Homo sapiens: one gene and its partner. The protein of the gene in region 1 purifies or fractionates together with the protein of each later gene. This does not show direct contact. Each region holds a gene or a part of one and is shown on either strand. Other genes may lie near its edges.

Region 1 (3,751 bases):
GTGCCTGCCCTGAGCAGCCGGTAGGTGGCGCTGATGGGCTGGTGGTTGGGTTGGGGGAGGCTCGCATAGGGTCTCTGGAGGTCCCAGTAGGGCACTGGGGAGACCTCCCCTGATTCCCTGGAGGCAGAGCAGAGCTCTTGTCTTTGCAGGAGCTGCAGATTCTGCCTTGGGTATCTTAGAAGCTTTGTACAGGCATCTCCAGCTCAGTGGGAACCAAATGCCATCCTATCTCCCCACCTCACTGGTGTCACCATCTTCCTGGGAGCTGTCTGGATAACCCTCTCCCTGGCCCTCACCTTTAATTTGTCCCTGAGTCCCATCAGGGTCACCCTCCATCCCACTGCCATCTTCCTGGGAGCTGTCTGGATAACCCTCTCCCTGGCCCTCACCTTTAATTTGTCCCTGAGTCCTATCAATCAGGGTCACCCTCCATCCCACCACCATCTCCCACCTGAGTGAGAATGGGAACCTCCTCTCCCACTCCCTCCAATTCCCCTCCACTACAGCTGGGGGAGGCTTCTAAAATGCCAAATATAGCCCAGTTTCTGCAACTTGCAGGGTCCCCAGCCCTCGGGAGAAAGTCCAAACCCCTGACAAAGCCTGTGAAGCCCCCTGAGGCCCTGTGGGTCTGGGGCTAGCTCTGGGCTGCAGCCCTGTCTCTGGTCATAGTCCAGCATCCACCACGGTCCAGGTGCACTGAGCTGCCGGCCCTCTCTCCCCTCCGCTGGCTCCTTCCTCCTGACTGCCCGTCTTTCCCTGGCCTCTCTATGCTTCCCGCTGGCATTGACGACAGTGTCCTGGAGAGCTGGGCAGGGAGGGCTGCCTTGGGTTCCTACTGTGTGCTCCACCTAGTGCTGGTCTTGGCCCTTAGCAAGTGCTCAGTACACCCGTGTGGAATTGGGCGGTGAGGGTAAAGGGAGGAGGAGGGAAGGGCCAAGAGCTCCCTGTGCTCAATGAAGAGAGGGACTTGAGCAAGTACTCATTTTTAGTACTTCCCAAGATGTGTACAAGAGGCCTGGGGCCAGCAGAACTCCTTGCCCCTGCCCATCCCCCTCCAGTCTATGGGGTCCACCCCCAGCTGCCCAGCTGTGAGGCCTCCATGGCTCAGCTCCTCATCTATTAAGTGAGGACAGCAGTCGTCCCCCTCACAGCGAGGCCACGTGGGTTACATAACTTTTTCTTAGGGTGCCTGGCCTGCAAGAAACCCCTAAGAATGTTCTATATTCCTAGGCCCACTGTTATTCTTAATATTACCCAGGAAAGGGTGGTGAAGCGAGTAAATAAATGAATAGGTGAATGAATAAATGAATGAATGAATGGCACCCTAGCCCCACTGTCTTCTGGGTGGCTTCAGGATCCTTGAGGAGGTTGGCCGTGTAGGTTCCCCTCAGGTAGGACCTAGGTGAGCTGGGGAGTCTTAACTCACCCAGGGCAGGCCTTAAGGTTGGGCACACCCATGTGTGGGCTCTGCCCTGGCCTTAACCGAGAGAGGGAAATGTTGACGGGGAAGAAAGCCCTGCCCACCAGGCAGCCCCACCCACCTGGGCTAGCCCCACTCACAAGCAGCCCCACCCACCTGGGTTAGTCCCACCCACCAGGCAGCTCCGCCTACCTTGGCTATCCCCCTCTGAGTTCTTGCCTTGATTCTCCTGTTACTGTCCCGCGAACCCACATCCCTACAAAGCAGGAAAGTATGCTTGGGAGAGGCCAAGTGAGTGGGGAATCAGCCCAAAGCCAGGCGTCCAGGGTCTCCCTCACCTGAAGCTGACTTTTTCCCCACCTTGGACAGAGGGCGGGAGATGCCATCCCCACTGAACCCAGTGCTTTCACCAGCCATATTAGCTCCCACTCACCCCCCGTCGTGGAAGCCTCGGCCGTCACACCTGCAGGGCCGGGGCGTGCATGGCCTCAGGGATGGCCTGTTCAGCTGCTGGGTGACTCGGGTCCAGGTGCCTCACCACCTGCTGAGCTCTGTGTGATTTCTGGACACTTCTGCTCGTTGCCTTTGGGCTCAGTGAAGAGTCTGGAGTTTATCTGGAGTGAGGTGGCCGGTTCTTGGTGGGATCTGAGCAGGTAAGAAGCAGGGTCTTTCTTATGTTTTAAGGAAAGCCCTGTGGCTGCTGGGTGGGGGACCAGCTGGAGGGGCAGGAGGGCAGCAGGTGACTCATTACAAGGCTGGGGCCATCATCCTGTGAGAGCTGGGCATGACCAGTGCAGGTCAGTGGGGTTGAGGGTACAGACCAGTGGGACCCACAGACGGCTCGGGAGTGACCAAGCCTCTGCTGAGCTGCCCAGGTCCCCTCTGGTGGACACCTCCTACCCGGAGCCCCCCAAGGTGGTGCCAAAGCTAGACCACCATACAGCCAGAGGCCTCCAGGCCCTACCCACGACAGCCCAGCTGGCTTCTGCCCAGCCACCGTCACACACAGAGGGCAGCCGTCCCCATGGTCCCTAGAGGCGGTTGAGGACCACTGTGCCTGGAGTCATCTGTGGCTATAAACCAGGAGGAGAAGGCTGCCCACCCCCTGCCCCAGAGATGGGGAGGCTGGGGCCACCCGGTGGATTTGGGCAGGTCCCAGCTTCCAGGATCATGAGGTGAAAACGTGAAGGGACCCTAGAGGCCATGGGGACCCAGGCACAGAGCGGCGGCCTCTCATCCTCCCCATGGTCAAGGAGGTCAGTGCCTTCCCGGGGTGGATTACGGATGGTAGTATCTTCCTTCTCCTCAGAGTCCATTCAGGAGCAGGAAAGTTCATCTCAGACCCTAAATCCAGCCACGTCATGCCACGCTTAACACCTCTAACAACTTCCCCTGGCACTTAGGACAGCGTCTGGCTCCTTCCCTCGGCTCATGGCCCTCAGAATCTGCGTCACATACACCCCAGCTCTCCCGATAGGTCTCTGCACTCGCTGTTGCCTCTGCCTGGAACAGTCTCCCTCCTGGTGTCATTGTCTCCGTGGTGTGTCCTTCCTGACCTTCCACCTCCACCAGGTGCCGACACTTCCCTGACCCCAGTAACCTCTTCTCTTGGGTGGGTGAATGCCACCTGCTGATGTCTGATTTATTCATCGGTTTTCTTGTCTGTAGTCTGTCCCCCTTGGGGACAGGGACTCGTTGCTCATGTTCACCCGGCAGGCTGGACACTTCGTGGAGGGCTCCAAAGCCGGCAGATCCCGGGGCCGCCTCTGTCTCTCCCAGGCCCTGCGTGTTGCGGTGAGAGGAGCATTTGTGTCTCTGTGGTTTGCTGCTGGAGCTGGTGACCGGGAGAGAAACAAGGGAGACAAGGGTGCCCAGACAGGTGCGGGGCTCAGCCAGGAGGCAGAAGACGTGGACGTGTCCCGGGCCAGGAGGGTCACAGATGCACCACAAGGCACTCTGTGTGGCACTGGGAACAGGAATTCTGGGAGTCAGTCTGCAAGGGTGGTGGGCGTTGCTCACCTGGGAGAAGCCTTTAGAGTGGGCGTTGAGCAGGCCATTAGCTCGTGCCCTGAGGAGGTGCATGGGCGGCATGGGCTCTCCATGGAAATTATGTGGGCGCGAATGGATGTGGCTCTGCGCTCACCTGGGCGAGGACTTCTGGCCGGTGCCGGGGCACTCTGCATGACCCTGGCAGAATCGAGCTGCCCTGACTATGAAAGGGGAAGAAGAGCATGCCTGACCCTCCACCGGCACCCCACCCCTCACTGCTCCACCTGGGGCCTGCCTCTGCGGGTGGCTGGGTCCTGGCTGACTGTTGTGACTGTTGAGGCC
Region 2 (3,651 bases), 4.5 Mb from region 1:
CGGTGAAGGGCGGGGCTTCTGTGTGACAGAGGCGTGGAGTGGGTGGGGCCTAGAGAGGGGCGGGATCTGGAAAGCGGGGCTCACATGGTCTTCTTGAGGATCTCGGAGTGGATGCGCGCCACGCCGTTGACGGCGTGCGACCCCGCGATGCACAGGTGTGCCATGTTGATGCGCTTCACTGCGCCCTCCTCCACCAGCGACATGCGCCGCAGCCGGTCTACGTCCCCTGGGAATGCGGCCGCCACCCGCTGTGCCCAGAGAGCCCAGAGCTAGAACCAGACCCAGGAACCCCCATCCCCAGTCCCCAGCCCCACACCCCCAGAGCTCTGCCCAGTGCCCCCACTGCCCCAGAGTCTCAGGGCCCTGGCTGGACGCCCCGACTCCCAGGCCCAGACTGGGTGTCCCCCCTCACCCCCACACCATCCCCCAAGCCTCCGGACTCACGTTGAGGAAGCGCTGGTTGATCTCGTAGATGATCTGGAGGTGCCGCGGCAGCAGCGTCTCCAAGAGGTGCACCGGCCAGCGCTCCAGGGCCTCGGGCAGCACCGTGTGGTTGGTGTAGGCACAGGTCCTCACTGTCACATCCCACGCCTGGCACACGGGGTGGGCAGTCAGGATGCTGACCTCAGCCCAGTGGGTCTCCTCACACACTACGCATCCCAGTGGGCCCCCCCACTGCAGTGCCAGGTTCCAGGACGGTCCCTCTGGCCTCAGGCTCTGATCCCTTCACTCCATTCATATCCTCCCACGCTCCCAAACTGGGAAGGGAACCCCGAGGCAGAGAGCATCAGATGGGGCAGAGGGGCCCTGAAGCCCACCTTGTCCCAGTCCATCCGTTCCAGGTCCACCAGGATCCTCATCAGCTCGGGGATGGCCAGGGAGGGGTGGGTGTCATTGAGCTGGATGGCCACCTGGGGTAGGGGGAGGGGTCAGTCTGGGCTCCAAACCACATTCCATGCTATGGTCACTGCCCTATGCCATTTGGAGGCCCCCAGAGAGCCCAGCACGGTTCTGTGACTGGGCTGTGGGCAGAGGCAGGCCGGTGCTCATGGGGGTGGGAGGAATGGGGGGAGTGGGGCGGGAGGAGGAGGGAAGCCCAGGTTCTGAGCCTGTGGATTGTGAATCCTGAACAACTGACCCTCCCACACTCCCAGTCTCCACTCCCTTATCTATTACATGGGGCAGGCAGGCCGAGGCTGGAGGGAGAGGCCTAGCACACACTGTCCGGTCACAGAGTCGCCCTCCACACGCATGGTACCTTATCTGGGAAGGCATCGAAGTTCGTGCGCACGGGATCACGGCAGCCGAACTTGGAAGACTTGAAGCGACGGATGATGTCCTGGAGGGTGGCAGCCACCACGAAATACTCCTGCTTCAGCCGCAGCTCCTTCCCTTCGAAGAACTGGGGACAGCATGAGGCAGCGTGAGTCAGGGCGGTGGGGGCATGGCCTAAAGCTGCGGTGGGTGTGGCCAGGAGGGACTCCCACCCATACCGGGACCCCTGAGCCCTGAGCCGGCCCCCTCTCTGGGACCCAGGGGCCTTTCCTCCACCAAGAACTAGTGGCGAGAGACAGTGTCAGGAAGAGGGGTACAAGAACCGAGTGTGTTGTGGGTGTCGCCAGGGAACAGCCCCTCCAAAGTGCCCTTCGCTAACCCAGTTTCCTCAGGACTCAGGTGTCCTTGCACTCAAAAGACTTGAGGTGGGGGCACAGGATGCACAAGGCCAGCAATATGCCCTGGGTGTGACTAGGGCACCAGCAAGTGTCCTTCCCCAGCTCTCCCTGACCCCTGCTGCCAAGGACTCAGGCTTCCAGCCCCCAGCCCAGGGGGTGACGCACATTATCATTGGGGTACAGGACACGAGAGATGTTCTCCGCCAGGTTTCGGTCCAACACAGCCTGGATGTAGCCACCGACATTGACTGAGGGACAAAAGTGGGGACAGGGTAAGGCCTGCGCTGGGCGTGGCCGGCGGGCAAGCTGGGGTTGCTGGCTACCAGTGGATGAACTCACAGTCCTTGAGGTTGAAGTCATTGGGAGCCTTGGCAGACCAGAGGCGCATGGTGTTGACAACATTGTTGCGATAGCCAGGCACGGGCGTATCGTAGGGCATGGCCAGTACCACCTGCGGGGGGCAATCCTGTCAGGAGCTGGCCAGCCCTGGCAATTGCCTCCCTCCCCTCAGGGCTGGGACTCAAGGCTTTATCCCTGCACTCTGCAGACCCAGGCTCTTGTCCTTGTCTAGCATCGATGAGCTGGGTAACCATGAGCAAACCCCATAGTCTCTCTGGACCGCATCTAGAGCAAAGACACCCTCAACACCTCCCCGACACCCATAAGCCCTGCCTGGGCAGACGGTGGTGAGGAAAATGGAAGGAGGCAGGTGATAAGCCCGGAACCCAGGAGGGGCTCTGTTGGCGACCACTCTGCAGCAATGGGGGCTGGGCTGGCCAGCCTGGCCTGAGCAAAAGCTAGAGGACACTGTGGACTCATGAGAGGGCTGGGGGAACCCAGGGCCAGGCTGAAGGGGTCACAGAGGTCAAGTCCATCCAAAGGTCTCATCTCTGGTTGACCACAGGGCTAATTCACGGTGACTAATTCTGCCCCGCCTTCCATAACTAGCAAACATCAATAATTGTCTGCTACCACGGTGCCAGGGGTACATTCACTCCTCTAAGCGAGCCCTTTTAAGGGGCATCGCCCTCCCTCCCCACATTCAGTCACCCTGATTGGTGCAGGGTGGGAGTTGACACAGAGAGAGGGAAGGGACCCATCCCCGAGCACACAGCCAGGCTGGCAGCACCAGAGGGAGCCAGGTCTCCTGCCTTCCAGCCACAGCCACTTGTGCCAGTTGCCACGTGCACCTGGCATGGACTGCCAGCAGCCCCCACTGCATCTTAACCTGGAGGACAACAAACAAATGCTCAGTTCTGAAAGCCTAGTGGTTTATCTGCAGCCCATCTGGGGGCTGATGACCTGAAGCTTCAGCAGGAAGATTGCCTGAACTGGGATTTGTTTTTTGTTTGTTTGTTTTTGAGATGGGACCTCACTCTGTTACCCAGGCTGGAGTGCAGTGGCACTATCTTGGCTCACTGTAACCTCCACCTCCTGGATTCAAGCGATTCTCTGGCTTCAGCCTCCTGAGTGGCTGGGATTACAGGCACGTGCCACCATGCCCGGCTAATGTTTTTGTGTTTTTAGTAGAGACTGGGTTTCACCATATTGGTCAGGCTAGTCTTGAACTCCTGACCTCAGGTGATCCACCTGCCTTGGCCTCCCAAAGTGCTGAGATTACAGGTGTAAGTCACCACGCCCGGCCTAAACTGGGATTTGTACACCTGGTTTGGTTTTAAGGTTTTCAGTTTTTGGTCTTTTTGCTTTTTGAAACAGTCTCACTCTGTCACACAGGCTGGCTGGAGTGCAGTTGTACAATCATAGCTCACTGCAGCCTTTAAATCCTGGACTCAAGTGATCCTCCCACTGAAGCCTCAGAGTAGCTGGGACTACAGGCATGCACCAGCACCCTGGCTAATTTTTTAAATTTTTTTTTTGAGACGAGGTCTGGCTCTGTCACCCAGGCTCCTGGGCTCAAGCAGTTCTCCCACTTCAGCCACCCGAGTAGCTGGGACTACAGGCGCACACCATCACGCCT

What was found. The genes of interacting proteins can lie anywhere in the genome.
Region 2: the proteins of MYEOV (region 1) and PYGM purify together in Homo sapiens (affinity purification with mass spectrometry; one large-scale study listed by BioGRID and IntAct). This does not show direct contact.

The regions. Positions count from the first base shown.
Region 1 is NC_000011.10:69,292,504-69,296,254, forward strand, and holds the start of MYEOV (myeloma-overexpressed gene protein), read left to right. Parts: upstream 1-1,651; 5' UTR 1,652-2,073; exon of another isoform or gene 2,074-2,729; 5' UTR 2,730-2,851; coding exon 2,852-2,992; exon of another isoform or gene 2,993-3,088; coding exon 3,089-3,751.
Region 2 is NC_000011.10:64,753,435-64,757,085, forward strand, and holds part of PYGM (glycogen phosphorylase, muscle form), read right to left. Parts: intron 2,125-3,651; coding exon 2,013-2,124; intron 1,922-2,012; coding exon 1,839-1,921; intron 1,403-1,838; coding exon 1,259-1,402; intron 912-1,258; coding exon 819-911; intron 592-818; coding exon 445-591; intron 249-444; coding exon 85-248; intron 1-84. UniProt on the Homo sapiens protein: Allosteric enzyme that catalyzes the rate-limiting step in glycogen catabolism, the phosphorolytic cleavage of glycogen to produce glucose-1-phosphate, and plays a central role in maintaining cellular and organismal glucose homeostasis.